4 linked regions of the Homo sapiens genome follow. The protein of the gene in region 4 interacts with the protein of the main gene of each other region in a pairwise test. Each region holds a gene or a part of one and is shown on either strand. Other genes may lie near its edges.

What was found.
Region 1: the proteins of CLIC6 (region 4) and UBE4A interact in a two-hybrid assay, tested with the Homo sapiens proteins (one large-scale study listed by BioGRID and IntAct).
Region 2: the proteins of CLIC6 (region 4) and PGK1 interact in a two-hybrid assay, tested with the Homo sapiens proteins (one large-scale study listed by BioGRID and IntAct).
Region 3: the proteins of CLIC6 (region 4) and TUBGCP5 interact in a two-hybrid assay, tested with the Homo sapiens proteins (one large-scale study listed by BioGRID and IntAct).

Annotation. Positions count from the first base shown.
Region 1 is NC_000011.10:118,366,100-118,369,599, reverse strand, and holds part of UBE4A (ubiquitin conjugation factor E4 A), read right to left. Parts: intron 970-3,500; coding exon 796-969; intron 178-795; coding exon 65-177; intron 1-64.
Region 2 is NC_000023.11:78,124,748-78,128,247, reverse strand, and holds part of PGK1 (phosphoglycerate kinase 1), read right to left. Parts: intron 3,375-3,500; coding exon 3,197-3,374; intron 2,922-3,196; coding exon 2,823-2,921; intron 2,459-2,822; coding exon 2,418-2,458; 3' UTR 1-2,417. UniProt on the Homo sapiens protein: Catalyzes one of the two ATP producing reactions in the glycolytic pathway via the reversible conversion of 1,3-diphosphoglycerate to 3-phosphoglycerate.
Region 3 is NC_000015.10:23,019,070-23,022,569, reverse strand, and holds part of TUBGCP5 (gamma-tubulin complex component 5), read left to right. Parts: intron 1-408; coding exon 409-611; intron 612-3,189; coding exon of another isoform or gene 3,190-3,235; coding exon 3,236-3,351; intron 3,352-3,500. UniProt on the Homo sapiens protein: Component of the gamma-tubulin ring complex (gTuRC) which mediates microtubule nucleation.
Region 4 is NC_000021.9:34,710,494-34,713,993, reverse strand, and holds part of CLIC6 (chloride intracellular channel protein 6), read right to left. Parts: intron 1-3,500. UniProt on the Homo sapiens protein: In the soluble state, catalyzes glutaredoxin-like thiol disulfide exchange reactions with reduced glutathione as electron donor. Can insert into membranes and form voltage-dependent chloride-selective channels.

The DNA.
Region 1 (3,500 bases), on a different chromosome or scaffold from region 4:
AGCAGAATTCAGCCGCATAGCTAATTTTTGCTAAGGGCACACATTAGGAACGTAAGAATATTACCTGCTCAACATTGCTCATATCAAGCCAGTCTTGATCTTCTAGCTCTACTGCCATTTCTTCCAAATACACACAACGGCTAGGGATGCCATTCCCGCTTTTCAAGCTGGGATCACCTGGGAAATGGTTTTAATATGATAGGTTAAGGATAATGCTTCTGTTTTATACAGACAACTGATCTTGACAGCATCACTCTTGAACTGCAAATCTGACTCAAGTAATACCAGAATGATCCTGATACACAAAGCAACATCTAAAGATTCAAATCTTTTTTTTTCCCCCTCTAGTCACAGAGAATGGGATTTGTTATAAACCTAGCATCATGACATTTAAAGAGTAAATCCCAGACATTAGTACCAACCTTGGGGTTTAAACACAGACAGGGCACAGAGGGCAAACACTCTCTGATGCCTCTGAAGGCTTCCATCTGAATATTTAGGTTACCTCTGAGAAGAAAATGGGTTTGGCTACCCTTCCCATTTCCTTTTTAAGGTAGTAAAGGCAAGTAGCTATATAGTGCAGTCAGTATTGAAATGGGAACAAAAGTTAGATCTGCATCTAAATACTGTTTTTAGGTCATACCAAAAGGTTCACTGAAATATAAACCCTGAGTTCCAGGGAGTGCAGTGAGTAGGTTTGTATCTAACCATTAGCTGTAACCAGTTTCAAAGAGCAAGCCCCTAGCCCAAGCTCAAATAGGAAGGGTAGAATAATGCTATAAGTTTGTAACTCACTGTTGTCCAGAGTAATAAGGAAGATCCTTTGGATCATGTGATTGATGTTGAGTTGCTCACATATTTCCTGCTGTGATCGGAATGAGCGGCTAATCTCAGCCACAGAGTAATCGAATTCATCCAGGCTCTCTGACACGCTATTATCCGAGTCATCTGGGCTAGCTGGGAGTTCATCTGCCAGAAAATGTATACTGTTAAATGTTACACCCCTTTAAGAGAGAACCAAGCATGCTACCAAAAATAATAAATGTAACCAAGAAGATGATAATTTCAGATGTAAAACAAGCTAATCATCTAATTAGTGAACATCTCAAGTCAGGGAAGTTAAATATAGGGTTTTGAAATTCCTGGCTATAAATCCTACCACATTTTACAAAGCAAAAGTTTTATTTCTATCCATAATTATACTCCACACTGCCAGAAATAGCAAAGTTATCTTCTCTACAGAATCCTAGTGAACAAAGAATTACCTAATAGATCAAAATGCCTTTAATTATTTTAAATGTATGGCTTTTCTCCCTGATTTTAAGAGATAACATTTGTTTTAATAGTTCTTAACTGTACAGAAAAATATAGTATAGAAAGTCTCCTGAACCAATTCCCTAAAGACACTTAACAGTGTTCAAGAATTTTTTTCTTTTCTGGTGCTAATATTCATTACTATCTTTTTAATTTTTTTAAAAAATGGGATACTATACATAGCTCTTTTCAGCTTGCCTTTTAATCAGCACCAACACCTTTCCCTGTTAGGCCATTTAGAGGCCTACCTCACTATTTTTAATAGCTGTATTGTATCACATCTTTTGCATGCCCTGTGGTTTATGTAGCTACTTTTCAACTGATGAACAATAGGGTTGTTTCTAATATTTCATGATTTTAAATACTGCACTGAATACAATACAACTTAACTCTTTTTGTTTACTTGTATGAGTATTTCTATAGGATAAATTCACAGTAGCAGAACTGCTGGATCAAAGAGCTTGAACATTTAAAAAGTTAACATTTACTGCCTGGCACGGTGGCTCACACCTGTAATCCCAGCACTTTGGGAGGCTGAGGCAGGCGGATCACGAGGTCAGGAGATTGAGACCATCCTGGCTAACATGGTGAAACCCCATCCCTACTAATACAAAAAATTAGCCAGGCGTGGTGGCACACACCTGTAGTCCCAGCTACTCGGGAGGCTGAGGCAGGAGAATTGCTTAAACCCGGGAGGCAGAGGTTGCACTGCACTCCAGCCTCGGTGACAGAGCAAGACTTCGTCTCAAAAAAAAAAAAAAAAAAAAGTTAACATTTACTACCAAGTTACCCTCAAAGAGACTGTCTGATTTACATGCAAACCCAACAGTATATGAGAGAGTGCCTGTTTGAATCTTCACAAATTTCATAGGTAAAAAAACAATTTAATGGTTGTTTTAATTGGCACTTCTCTAATGATTGATGAGAATAAATTTTTTAATCATTTGGTTATAAGTTGCATGTCACATCTTTTGTACCTTTTTATTCTTTCTTGTTATTTTTTTCTTATTGATGAAATTCCTTCGATTTTTTTTTTTTTAAACTTCTGTCCTCAAAATCTGCTCCCATCCTTTGATTTTTTTTTTTGAGATGGACTCTCACTCTGTCGCCCAGGCTGGAGTGCAGTGGTGTGATCTCGGCTCACCGCAACCTCTACCTCCCAGGTTCAAGTGATTCTCCTGCCTCAGCCAAGTAGCTGGGACTACAGGCGCCCACCACCACGCCCGGCTAATTTTTGTATTTTTAGTAGAGATGGGGTTTCACCATGTTGGCCAGGCTGGTCTCAAACTCCTGACCTCAGGTGATCCGCCCACCTTGGCCTCCCAGAGTGCTGGGATTATAGGCGCCTGTCATCATGCCCGACTAATTTTTGTGTTTTTAGTAGAGACGGGGTTTTGTCATGTTGGCCAGGCTGGTCTCGAACTCCTGACCTCCGGTGATCTGCCCACCTAGGCCTCCCAAGGAGCTGGGATTACAGGCGCGAGCCACTGCGCCCAGCCCCATCATTCATGTTGAATGACTACATAAAAGTAGTGTTATTCACTATATGCCACATATGAGTCTATATGTACTTTTCTCTATTGACAGAATGGCTAGTCTGAAAGTCCAGGTAAAACTCTCAAAGTAAGAGTTGTTTCAGTGTGGTGAGTATAAGCTCAACATAGGAAGCCAAAGGTTTTGGCAAAGTACTAATTGCTAGTGGAAACAGGTTGGACCTGGTGGCATGATAAACTCAGTGTAAACAAACTAGGATGATGAGGTGCCAAAATAGTAACAGAAGGGCATGTGCCTGCAATGCTCCCAACTCTAGCCAGATTTATGTCTGTTTATAGCCAGAAGGACAAGCGTTCTGTTGCTCAGCTGCTATACTGTTGAGTTTTTCTCTGACCTCCAATGGTGACAGAAGCTAAGAATCTGTTTAGCAAAATTTCCCTCAACCACATACTCATAAATCATACTTTCTCATTCCTTATTTTTCCTATTTTTCACTCTGCTTTTTCCCCTACAATCTTCTAAACCAGAGTTTCCCATTCTGGCCCCGTATCATAGAAATCTGGGAGAGATTTCAGAGACTGAAAATACCATGTTAAAAAAAATCAACATTGATTTTGTTTTTCCCTTGCATCAATCACTTATCTGTCTTGCCTTTACCTCTTTTTTCTTCAGCCCTTTCTAACTGAAAGGCC
Region 2 (3,500 bases), on a different chromosome or scaffold from region 4:
CTTATATGCACACAAGTTATCTACTATCTTCTTTGGTTAGGTTAAAAATTCCTTCAGAACATAAATGCTCTTATATTCCCTCTATCACGTCTTTAAGCACATAGAAGGAACTCAAATATTTGCCTAATTGACAAGTTGTTTATGACTGGAGATTCCCCCATTCATTCTTTAGGTTAACAACCCAAATAAATGAGGGGTGATCCTGGAAACAGTCCAGTAGAAAGTACTTAAAAGGTACAGTCAGAGATTGTTGGATAGATAATGTTGGCAATTGTAGAGTCTAGGTGCTGGGTTTATGGGAGTTTATGCTTCTTTCAGTTCCATTTGAAATAATTTTTAAAACGTTGGAGGAAAGGTAATCAGTAGGAAAAAGTCACAAAAATTGGACTAGAATTCCTGAGTACCCATAGAGGTATGCAGAAACATGGTACAATTTAAAATTAACTACAAATATGGGTACAGTATTAACTAAAATACAAATGAAGAAAAAACTTGAGCTTTCAAATTTCTGTTTTGTTTAGAGCAACCACCAAAATTTTCTTTTGCTATTCTATCCAGGGTTAAACAAAATAGTCTAGAAGCATCATGTCAGGGATAGAGTCTAGAAGCATCTATAGCCTAGAAGCATCATGTCAGGGACGGAGGCACATTGGAAAAGCATCAGCCACTGGAACCAGACAAACCTGGACTTGAATCCCTGCTGTTACTTACTAGCTCTGTGGTCCTGTCCAAAAGTTTATTTCTTTGTCCCTAAAGGTGAAATACATATCTTTCCAGCACAGAATTTCTGGTCAGACATGGCTTTTTCAAATCATGTTTACCTCTGCTCTCTCCCAAAACTCCATTAAAAGGACAGGAAAGAAATAGGAAGGTAAAATTATAAAGATGATGAAAGAATCCGAATGGCCATTTAGATTCTCAATAGTGACAATGAAACAGTGGCTTCGAGTCTCAAAAAGTGATACTCAGGCTAAAATTCTATATATAGCCAAACTAGGAATCAAGTATAAGGGTCGAATAAAGACATTTTCAGACTTACAAAGTCTTAGAGATTTTGCCTCCCAGGCACCCTTTCTCAGGAAGCTAGTAGAGTCTTGTGTTCTACAAAAAGTAGACCAAGAAAGAGGGAAAAGGGGGAATCCAGAAAACAGGAGTCTAACACAGGAGGTAAAAGAAATCCCCAAGAAGGTTATAGGAAATACCAGAGCAACAGCTAGCTGTACACCCTGCCTAGAGGGCATCAAGTACAAATTGGATAAAGGAGCACTAAGGACTCCTGCAGGGATAACTCTAACAAGGATTATTCAATATGTTTTAATATATTGAGACACTTATGCTTCTAGAAGATTTGGGAATGAATCACTGATGGGTATACACAGAAAATTTTTTGAAACACTGTTAATGCCAAAGACAATAAAAGTTACATAAGTAAATTTAATCATAGCATACTACATAGCTCAGCTGTATTAGTTATGTAGACTTTTGATCTAATCTATAATTGTGACAAAACTATACCGAGAGAATGAAGAAGTGGAAATATATGTGGAACAGAGCCTTCCTCCATGGTATGAAATAGATTTCTTTAAAAAATAAAAAAAAAAGAAGTGAACAATATAAGCATATTACTTAGAAACATGGAGGTATATACCTGAAAAACTCAAGAGTTGAAAGTGGTCACCTCTGGGGAGTGGGAATCTTGAATGGGAGGAATGGGCTGGGGCTTTTTTGTTATAAGCCTTGACTTTTTAAATTATGATCATGTGTAACTGATAAAAATAAAAGTTAGAATAAAAGCACTAGCACAATGTCTGCCATAAAGTAGGCCCTTGATAAAGAATGGACATTTATCTAATTGTCCCATCTCTCCACTGCTGCTGCCCCACTTCTTGCATTCAGCAATATAGACATCTGATCCGTTCCTCAAGATTCTATTCTCACCCTTCCTAACAAAGTATGACAGGAAAAAAAAAAAAATCACGGTTTCAATGGACACTTTTATTGTTTACTTAATGGATCATCAATTTTGTCTCACTACCTACAAATGGAATTTCATCTTGTTTCCATGCTGAGTAGTGAAACAGTGACAAAGCTAATCATAATAACCTACATCAAAAGAGAACTAAGCTAACACTGCTCACTTTCTTTTTAACAGGCAAAATATAAATATATGCACTCTAGAATGCACAATGGTTTAGTCACTAAAAAATTCAAATGGGATCTTGAAGAATGTATGCAAATCCAGGGTGCAGTGAAGATGAGCTGAGATGCTGTGCAACTGTTTAAGGGTTCCTGGCACTGCATCTCTTGGCCACTAGCTGAATCTTGACATGGAAGGTTTTAGCTAATGCCAAGTGGAGATGCAGAAAATGCTAAGTTGACTTAGGGGCTGTGCACAGGAACTAAAAGGCAGGAAAGTACTAAATATTGCTGAGAGCATCCACCCCAGGAAGGACTTTACCTGTTTTTGAGAGAGCACACATACATAGACAGCATTACTATAGGGCCCAGTAAGCCAGATTTCCCCCACTTTATCTTCCCAATAACATGCCAGCTCTTTTTTAGGATATATGGCCAGGAGCTGGCCAACTTTTACATTGTGGATTCCAGGTCTACTAGACCATAACTCTCAGACCAAGTTTCTATCTGTCCCTCCCCGCCTCAGTGGATGCCAGGAGCTTTATCTGAAGTTCCTCTGTACTGCCCAGGTAGTAATGACTGCTAATGACAACACTACCTTCTAACTTTCTCCACTCCATTCTACCCACCTCTCACTGCACAGTCCACCCTTATCCCAAACAAGCCAAAAAACAGAAGACCCTCACCTTCCAGGAGCTCCAAACTGGCACCACCCCCAGTGCTCACATGGCTGACTTTATCCTCCGTGTTCCATTTGGCACAGCAAGTGGCAGTGTCTCCACCACCTGTTGAATGAAAGCCAGGTAAAAAGGGAAAAGAGAGAAAAGAAAAAAAAGGGATTGGCACCAAAACTGTAAGGCAGTGTGCTCCCCAACCCAAAAGGTAGCTGATAAACCCCCAACTCTATCTTACCAAGAGGCTCCTCTGTAAATTACCTACCTGTTTACCTCTTAACATTTACCCAGAATAAAGAGACATAGAAGAAGTTCTCCATTCCACCTTCCTCTGATCAGAATTCTGCCAGCTTATATGGGTATTAGCTTTGTATAGGACCGCTTACCTATGATGGTGATGCAGCCCCTAGAAGTGGCTTTCACCACCTCATCCATGAGAGCTTTGGTTCCCCGGGCAAAAGCTTCCCATTCAAATACCCCCACAGGACCATTCCACACAATCTGCTTAGCCCGAGTGACAGCCTCAGCATACTTCTTGCTGCTTTCAGGACCACAGTCCAAGCCCTGAGGGGTAGAGGTGAAAGAGAAGATGAGCTATCAAGAAAAGCTACTTAAACACCACCTCCACCAAGACCAGAACTCAGGGCTGCACACCAAAGTTTCTTCTAGAAACAAATAGTACCCTTCAGT
Region 3 (3,500 bases), on a different chromosome or scaffold from region 4:
CCAGGAGCTTGCTTGTGCAGCCCTTTGTAGGCACAGCCTCCCTCACCCCTCTCTGTAACATTAGCCCATTGGGAGGTGTTTTGTTTTACCTAGTGTAATTTTAATTTGCGTTCTTTTATTATAAGTAAGGTCAAGTGACTTTCTGTATGTTTTAGAATCACTCATCATTCCTTTTTTATGAACTGTCAGTTCCTTTATACATTATTTTTCTGCTGAGTTGTCTTTTTCTCTGTGACTTGCAGGAGTTCTTCCTTAGGGAAATTAGGTCCTTGTGGTATGAGATTAAAATCCACCGTCCTCCATTTTGCCCTGCCTGTCCATAAGCCTGATGATTTGCCAGCATTTATGTCACATTTTAGATGCATGTATTTTTCCTTGCTGTTGAGTTTGATTTATTGATATTTGCAGATACTACAATAACTCTTGCAATAGTGGTGGACAAGTTGGCACCTCGATTGTCTCAGCTCAAGGTTCTGCACAAAGTGTTTAGTACTGGAGTAGCAGAAGTTCCACCTGATACTCGAAATGTCGTCCGGGCCTCTCACCTGCTTAACACCCTGTACAAGGCCATTCTTGAATATGACAATGTTGGAGAAGCCTCTGAGCAAACCGTAAGTGAGACTTCTGCCTAAAGTGTGTGACTCCATGCTGCACAGCAGAGGAGTGATAGACAGCTGATGGTAGTTCTTTGTTGATACTTGAATGATGACTCGTCAGACAGTTCAGAGTTTTTAAATTAACTTCCAAATTTAAGGCTGTAGGAAACTGGCTTTTCAGCTCTAATTGCCAAGATCCTCAGAAGGATGAGGCAAGGACAAGGCAAGCTGTGAGAAGTACCTACCTGATGTGTATAGATATTTACAATAACGCTTTCTTACATAAACACTAACATGTAACTAACATGACATGAGATAGCTGAAGTAGACACATCCACAGAAACAAAGTGGAATGCTGGTTACCAAGGGCTGGGGAATGGGGAGCTGTTGTTTAATGGGTACAGAGTTTCAGTTTTATAACATGAAAAAGTTCTGGAGATTTGTCACAACGATATGAATGTACTTAAAACCTCTGAACTTAAAAATGCTGAGGGTCAGGCACAGTGGCTCGTGCCTGTAATCCCAACACTTTGGGAGGCCGAGGCAGGAGGATTGATTGAGCCCAGGAGTTTGAGACTTGCCTGGGCAACATAGTAAGACTCTGTCTTTAAAAAATTAGTTAAATTAAAATTTTTTAAAATATACAGTTAAGATAAATTTTATGTTATATATTTTATATTGTATTTTAAAAAATACAAATCTAGGCCATGCATAGTGGCTCACGCCTGTAGTCCCAGCTACATATGAGTCTGAGGTGAGAGGATCACTTGAGCCCAGGAATTTGAGACCAGCCCGGGCAACATACTGAGACCCTGTCTCTACAAAAAATTTTTAAAGTAGCCAGGTGTGCTGACACCAGGAATTCGAGACCAGCCTGGCCAACATGGTGAAACCCCGTCTCTACTAAAAATACAAACATTAGCCTAGTGTGGTGGCGAACACCTGTCATCCCAGCTACTCAGGAGGCTGAGGCAGGAGAATTGCTTGAACCCGGGAGGATGCAGTGAGCCGAGATCGCACCACTACACTCCAGCCTGGGCAACAGAGCAAGACTCTGTCTCAAAAAAGGTAGCCAGCTCTGGAGGCACATGCCTATGGTCCCAGGTACTCGAGAGGCTAAGGCAGGAAGATGGCTTGAGTGTGGAAGGTCAAGGCTGCAGTGAGCCATGTTTGTGCCACTGCACTCCAGCTTGGGTAACAGAGCAAGACCCTGTCTCAAACAATATATAGATTTAAAAATAAAAATCTAACTAGAGGCTGTAATTTAGAATGCTACAGTCTTAGTTGGGTATGTACATTAGGTGTATTTTCTAGTTTGTTGGTATAACTTTTTTTCACACCAATTTAATACCATATTTCTTTTTTTCTTTTTTTTTTTTTTTTTTTTTTGAGACGTAGTCTTGCTCTGTTGCCAGGCTGGAGTGCAGTCGCACGATCTTGGCTCACTGCAACCTCCACCTCCCAGGTTCAAGTGATTCTTCTGCCTCAGCCCCCTGAGTAGCTGGGACTACAGGCGCACATCACCATGCCCGGCTAATTTTTTGGGGTTTTTTTTTGTTTTTTGTTTGAGATGGAGTCTCGCCCTGTCGCCCAGGCTGGAGTGCAGTGTCATGATCTTGGCTCACTGCAACCTCTGCCTCCTGGGTTCAAACTATTCTCCTGCCTTAGCCTCCTGAGTACCTGGGATTACAGGCGCCCACCACCATGCCCATCTAATTTTTGTATTTTTAATAGAGATGGGGTTTCACCATGTTGGCCAGGCTGGTCTCGAGCTCCTGACCTCCTGATCCGCCTACCTCGGCCTTCCAAAGTGCTGGGATTACAGGCATGAGCCACCACACCCAGCTGTATTTTTTTTTAATAGAGATGGGGTTTCACCATATTGGCCAGGCTGGTCTCAAACTCCTGCCCTTGTGATCTGCCCACCTCAGCCTCCCAAAGTGCTGGGGTTACAGGCGTGAGCCACCATGCCCAGCCAATTTCCTCATCCTTAATGGATGCTTTGCTAGTAATAGGATTTAGATAGGGAAACCTTGTTCGCTTGCCTGGGCTATCTCAGGATACACCTGCTGCCTCTGTGTCACTTTCACTCTCAAGTTTCCCAGTCTGGACTACAAACAATATGATCATCCCATATTTAGGTGAGTTTTTCTTTTTTCTTTTTTTTTTCTTTTTGTTTTGAGACAGTGTCACTCTGTTGCCAGGCTGGAGTGTAGTGGCACGATCTTGGCTCATTGCAGCCTCCACCTGCCAGATTCAAGCAATTCTCCTCCCTCAGCCTCCCAAGTAGCCAGGACTACAGGCGCGTGTCACCATGCCCAGCTAATTTTTGTATTTTTAGTAGAGAGGGGGTTTCACCATGTTGGCCAGGATGGTCTCGATTTCTTACCTCAGGTGATCCGCCCACCTCGGTCTCCCAAAGTGCTGGGATCACAGGCGTGAGCCACCACGCCCGGCATTTAGGTGAGTTTTTCATAAGGATTTTATAGTGTATGTTTTTGGATTTTTAATTTCTTTGTGCCCCAAAAAACATAGAAATCCGATCACTTTTTTAAAGGCATTTCAGAAATGTTTAAACCTCCTTTTATCCTAGTGACCAGGGAACCCTGAGAGCTGACCGTGCACACTCTCTGCCTCAGGTCTCCCTCCTTTTCTCTCTCTGGGTGGAAACGGTGCGGCCTTACCTGCAGACGGTGGACGAGTGGATCGTGCACGGGCACCTGTGGGATGGCGCCAGGGAGTTCATCATCCAGAGGTGAGCTGCAGCAGAGCACAAGGTCACTGGGGGCTGGCATCACCAGTTTCCTCCCCATGAAAATCAAATGCTTTCGTTAGTTTCAGACAGTACTGAGAAAGCACAGTTCACATCACAGAACTTGTCGTCATCATAGGCAAGTTCTATCT
Region 4 (3,500 bases):
AATTTTCTGATTTTTAATGGGTTCATGAAGACATCTGGGGCCAGTCTGAATTTCTTCCCTGTTTCACTGGCTTTACTCTATTTCATTCTTTTTATTATTATTACTGTTGTTGGTATTACAGTATTATTATTGTCTAGGTGCCAAAAAGGGTTGTTTTTTATTCTCAAAGCTCAGTAATGTATCAAGTATGTCTCAGTGTGTTGATCTTTCTGGGGCAATGTTTAACATGGCATGTCATTTAAACTGAAGATTCAGGTCATCCTTTAGTTCAAAGTAATTTCCCCATTGAACATTCTCTCGTTTTCTTTTATTTTTTTTTCCTTTCCTTTTCCTTTTCTGTTCTCTTGTTCCTGATCATGTATATCTGGGATCTCTCTAATCACCTTTTTTATTCTTCCCCACTTGATTTTAGATGATTTTTCTCAGGCTTGTCTTCCAAATCACTGACAGCACGGCTACAAACACATTCCACATGCCAAAACCAACTCTATAAGATGTGTGCGAATGTCAGAGGAAATCAATTTCAGCAATGTCTTCGTCTGTGTCTTACTGCTTCTAACAGGACTTTTATTTCTGCAGTTCTTTTATTTGTCTTTACTTTTCTTCTTGAGCTCTTCCAGCCTGATTTCCATCCCCTTTGTGATAATATATTTTTGAACATCTTGTGTCTTGTCTTTGAGATTTTTCTCAAAAAGCCCATATTCTCTTTCATTTCTTTGAGGCTGTAGAAAAATTTCTGTAAGAAACGTTCTTTAATGTGCTGGAGGAGCAGTTCTTGATCATATATGTATTTCCCATCTGTCTTTTTCTGTTTTTGTTTCTTGTCTTTATCATTCCTCCCCCCACCCCCTTCTTTTCAATCAACTCTGTCTACCCCAAGGTCTCACTGGCATTCTCTCTGGTATTGGCCTTCTTTGAATGAGGCAGATCTACTGGACCTATCATTTGCTTAAAAGCAGTGGGGAGGGCAAAGGGAGTGAGACAGGGCAGGTGGCCAACCAACTGGAATATTTGCTCCCAAGCACCTTGTCGCCAACCACTGCTCTGCCCCAGAGAGACACATTAGAGTTGGGGTTAGGGCTGGGGTTAGGGTTAGAGTTACGGTTAGGGTTAGGGTTAGGGTTAGGGTTAGGGTTAGGGTTAGGGCATCCTCCACTCTGAGGCTCACAGATTAGGCAGAAGGCCACTGTGGCTAGAAACGAAGTTTGGGCAATTCTAGTCTCTCTCTTGACTGGCTGGGGCCTAGATTCTTTTCTCTGCTCAGCAGTCACAATGCAAAATGCCACTTCCCTCCTTTCCTCCCTCTTTACCTCCCCTCCAGACTGTTCCTCTGGATTAGGTGCTGGGTCACAGCCTAGAAAGATGGCGTCTCTGTGTGGCTCCTCCTTCAATTCTGCCTCCCTAGAGATCTCAGCTCAACAAGGGTCTCTATAGGGAAGTTCTGTGATTCCCTCCTGGCCCATCTCATGCTCTAGGCCTCAAGCAAAGAAGTTTGAGTTGGGTATTTCAGGACTGTGTTCTTTACCTTTTGAGAAATCTGAACTTTGCTAAAGATACGGAGAAACATGTAATGGTTCTGTGGCTCCTCCCACTGAAAGAAGCTTCCTACTCTTTAAGTCGATGATCTGTCATCCCTTTGTAGTTTTACAAAAAAGATGAAGCTAATACCCTATTTTGATATTGTTTTTGCTGGGTTTCTGGCAGGGGAATAAATTATAAATCCCTTCACACTCTCATCTTTTACCATAATTCCCTTAGATTGATTCTCATTTCCTTTCAGAAGTACTCCATCCTGGAAGATCATTAAGCTGTTGGGTATTGTGAGTGCTAAATGGCCTTGCAGATTTTTCTTCTGGGTCTTATAGTGGAGCCATGAACTGCAATCTCACTCTAAAGCTTACCCTTTCTACTGAAATTTAAAATCGTCTTTTCTCATGGGAGCTAAACAAGGGGCCATGAATGCTCTGTGGCTGGGATATTTCTCCCCCTCTTCTTCAAGTTTCATGTGTTTCTGCAATGCTACGCTGGTCACAGTAGGGACTAAAAAGCATTTACCAAAAGGGACTCAATCAAAACACAGCTACATAAATATCCTGTTAGAAGGCAGCTCCCAAATTTAGCAGGTTTTGAGGGGTGGAGATGCTTTCATTAAATTTTGGATATTGGTGGACTGGCAAAGCTATTGAAAAGACATCTGCCCAAGGGATCAGCAACCTCCTGAAGGCCTGCATTTCAAGTCAGTATCCTCACGCACAAAAAGGAAGGGAGAAGAAGGGAGCAACAGGGCCAGGACCGAGAGGGGAAGAGGATAGAAAGAAGAAATGCAGGAAGACAAAGGCAAAAGAATGAAGCAGAGTCACCAGGGGTGGCCGGGAGCCCACAGGAGCCTCAGCACCATAGACTGTGTGAAGCTAACATGTAATTTATTTATTTATTTATTTATTTATTTATTTATTTATTTATTTGTTTGTTTATTTGACAGAGTCTTGCTCTGTTGCCCAGGCTGGAGTGAGTGCTCACTGCAACCTCCGCCTCCTGGGTTCAAATGATTCTCGTGCCTCAGCCTCCCAAATGCATGGGACTACAGGCGCACACCACCACACCTAGCTAATTTTTTTATTTTTTGTAGAGATAGGGTTTCTCCATGTTGGCCAGGCTGGTCTCAAACTCCTGGCCTCAAGTGATCTGCCCATCTTGGCCTCCCAAAGTGCTGGGATTACAGGCATGAGCCACTGCGCCTGGCCGCTACCTTGTAATTTCTAAATGCTAACTAAATGTGTTATTAGAACAAACAGTCCATGACTTATTTTTCCTGGTGTTTCTCCCATCTCCCCTACACTTATACCAACCACCTGGCTCTGGCCCTGGCAGGATTTTAATCATAAAAATGCCCCAGAGCCAGGCATGGGCTTCTTCCTGAGGTATCTGGAGCTGCTAAGGGCCAAGGACATAGCAATCTCATCACAGCAATCACATTCAACTTCTATAAGTGATAGAGCGGCTGGGAGCGCTGCTGTGCTGAGAGACAGCAACAGCTACAGAGTCCGAGTGTGGGGATATCCGCTTGGAGCTCCAGGGGTCACTCTTGGAAGCTCCGATTTACTAGCGCAGGCAGTGGGTCGGGGACTTACATTTCTTGTTTTTTTGGGGTTTTTGTTTGTTTGTTTTTTGTTTTTTTTCTGAGACGGAGTCTTGCTCTGTCACCCAAGCTGGAGTTCAGTGGTGTGATCTTGGCTCACTGCAATGTCTGCCTCCCGGGTTCAAGCGATTCTCCTGCCTCAGCCCCCCAGGTAGCTGGGAGTACAGGTGCCCGCCACCACACCTGGCTAATTTTTTGTATTTTTAGTAGATAGGGAGTTTCACCATGTTAGCCAGGATGGTCTCGATCTCCTGACTTCGTGACCTGCCCGCCTTGGCCTCCCAAAGTGCTGGGATTACAGGCGTGAGCCGCCATGCCTGGCCCGGGGACTCACATTTCTAAAAAGCTCCCCAGACAGTTT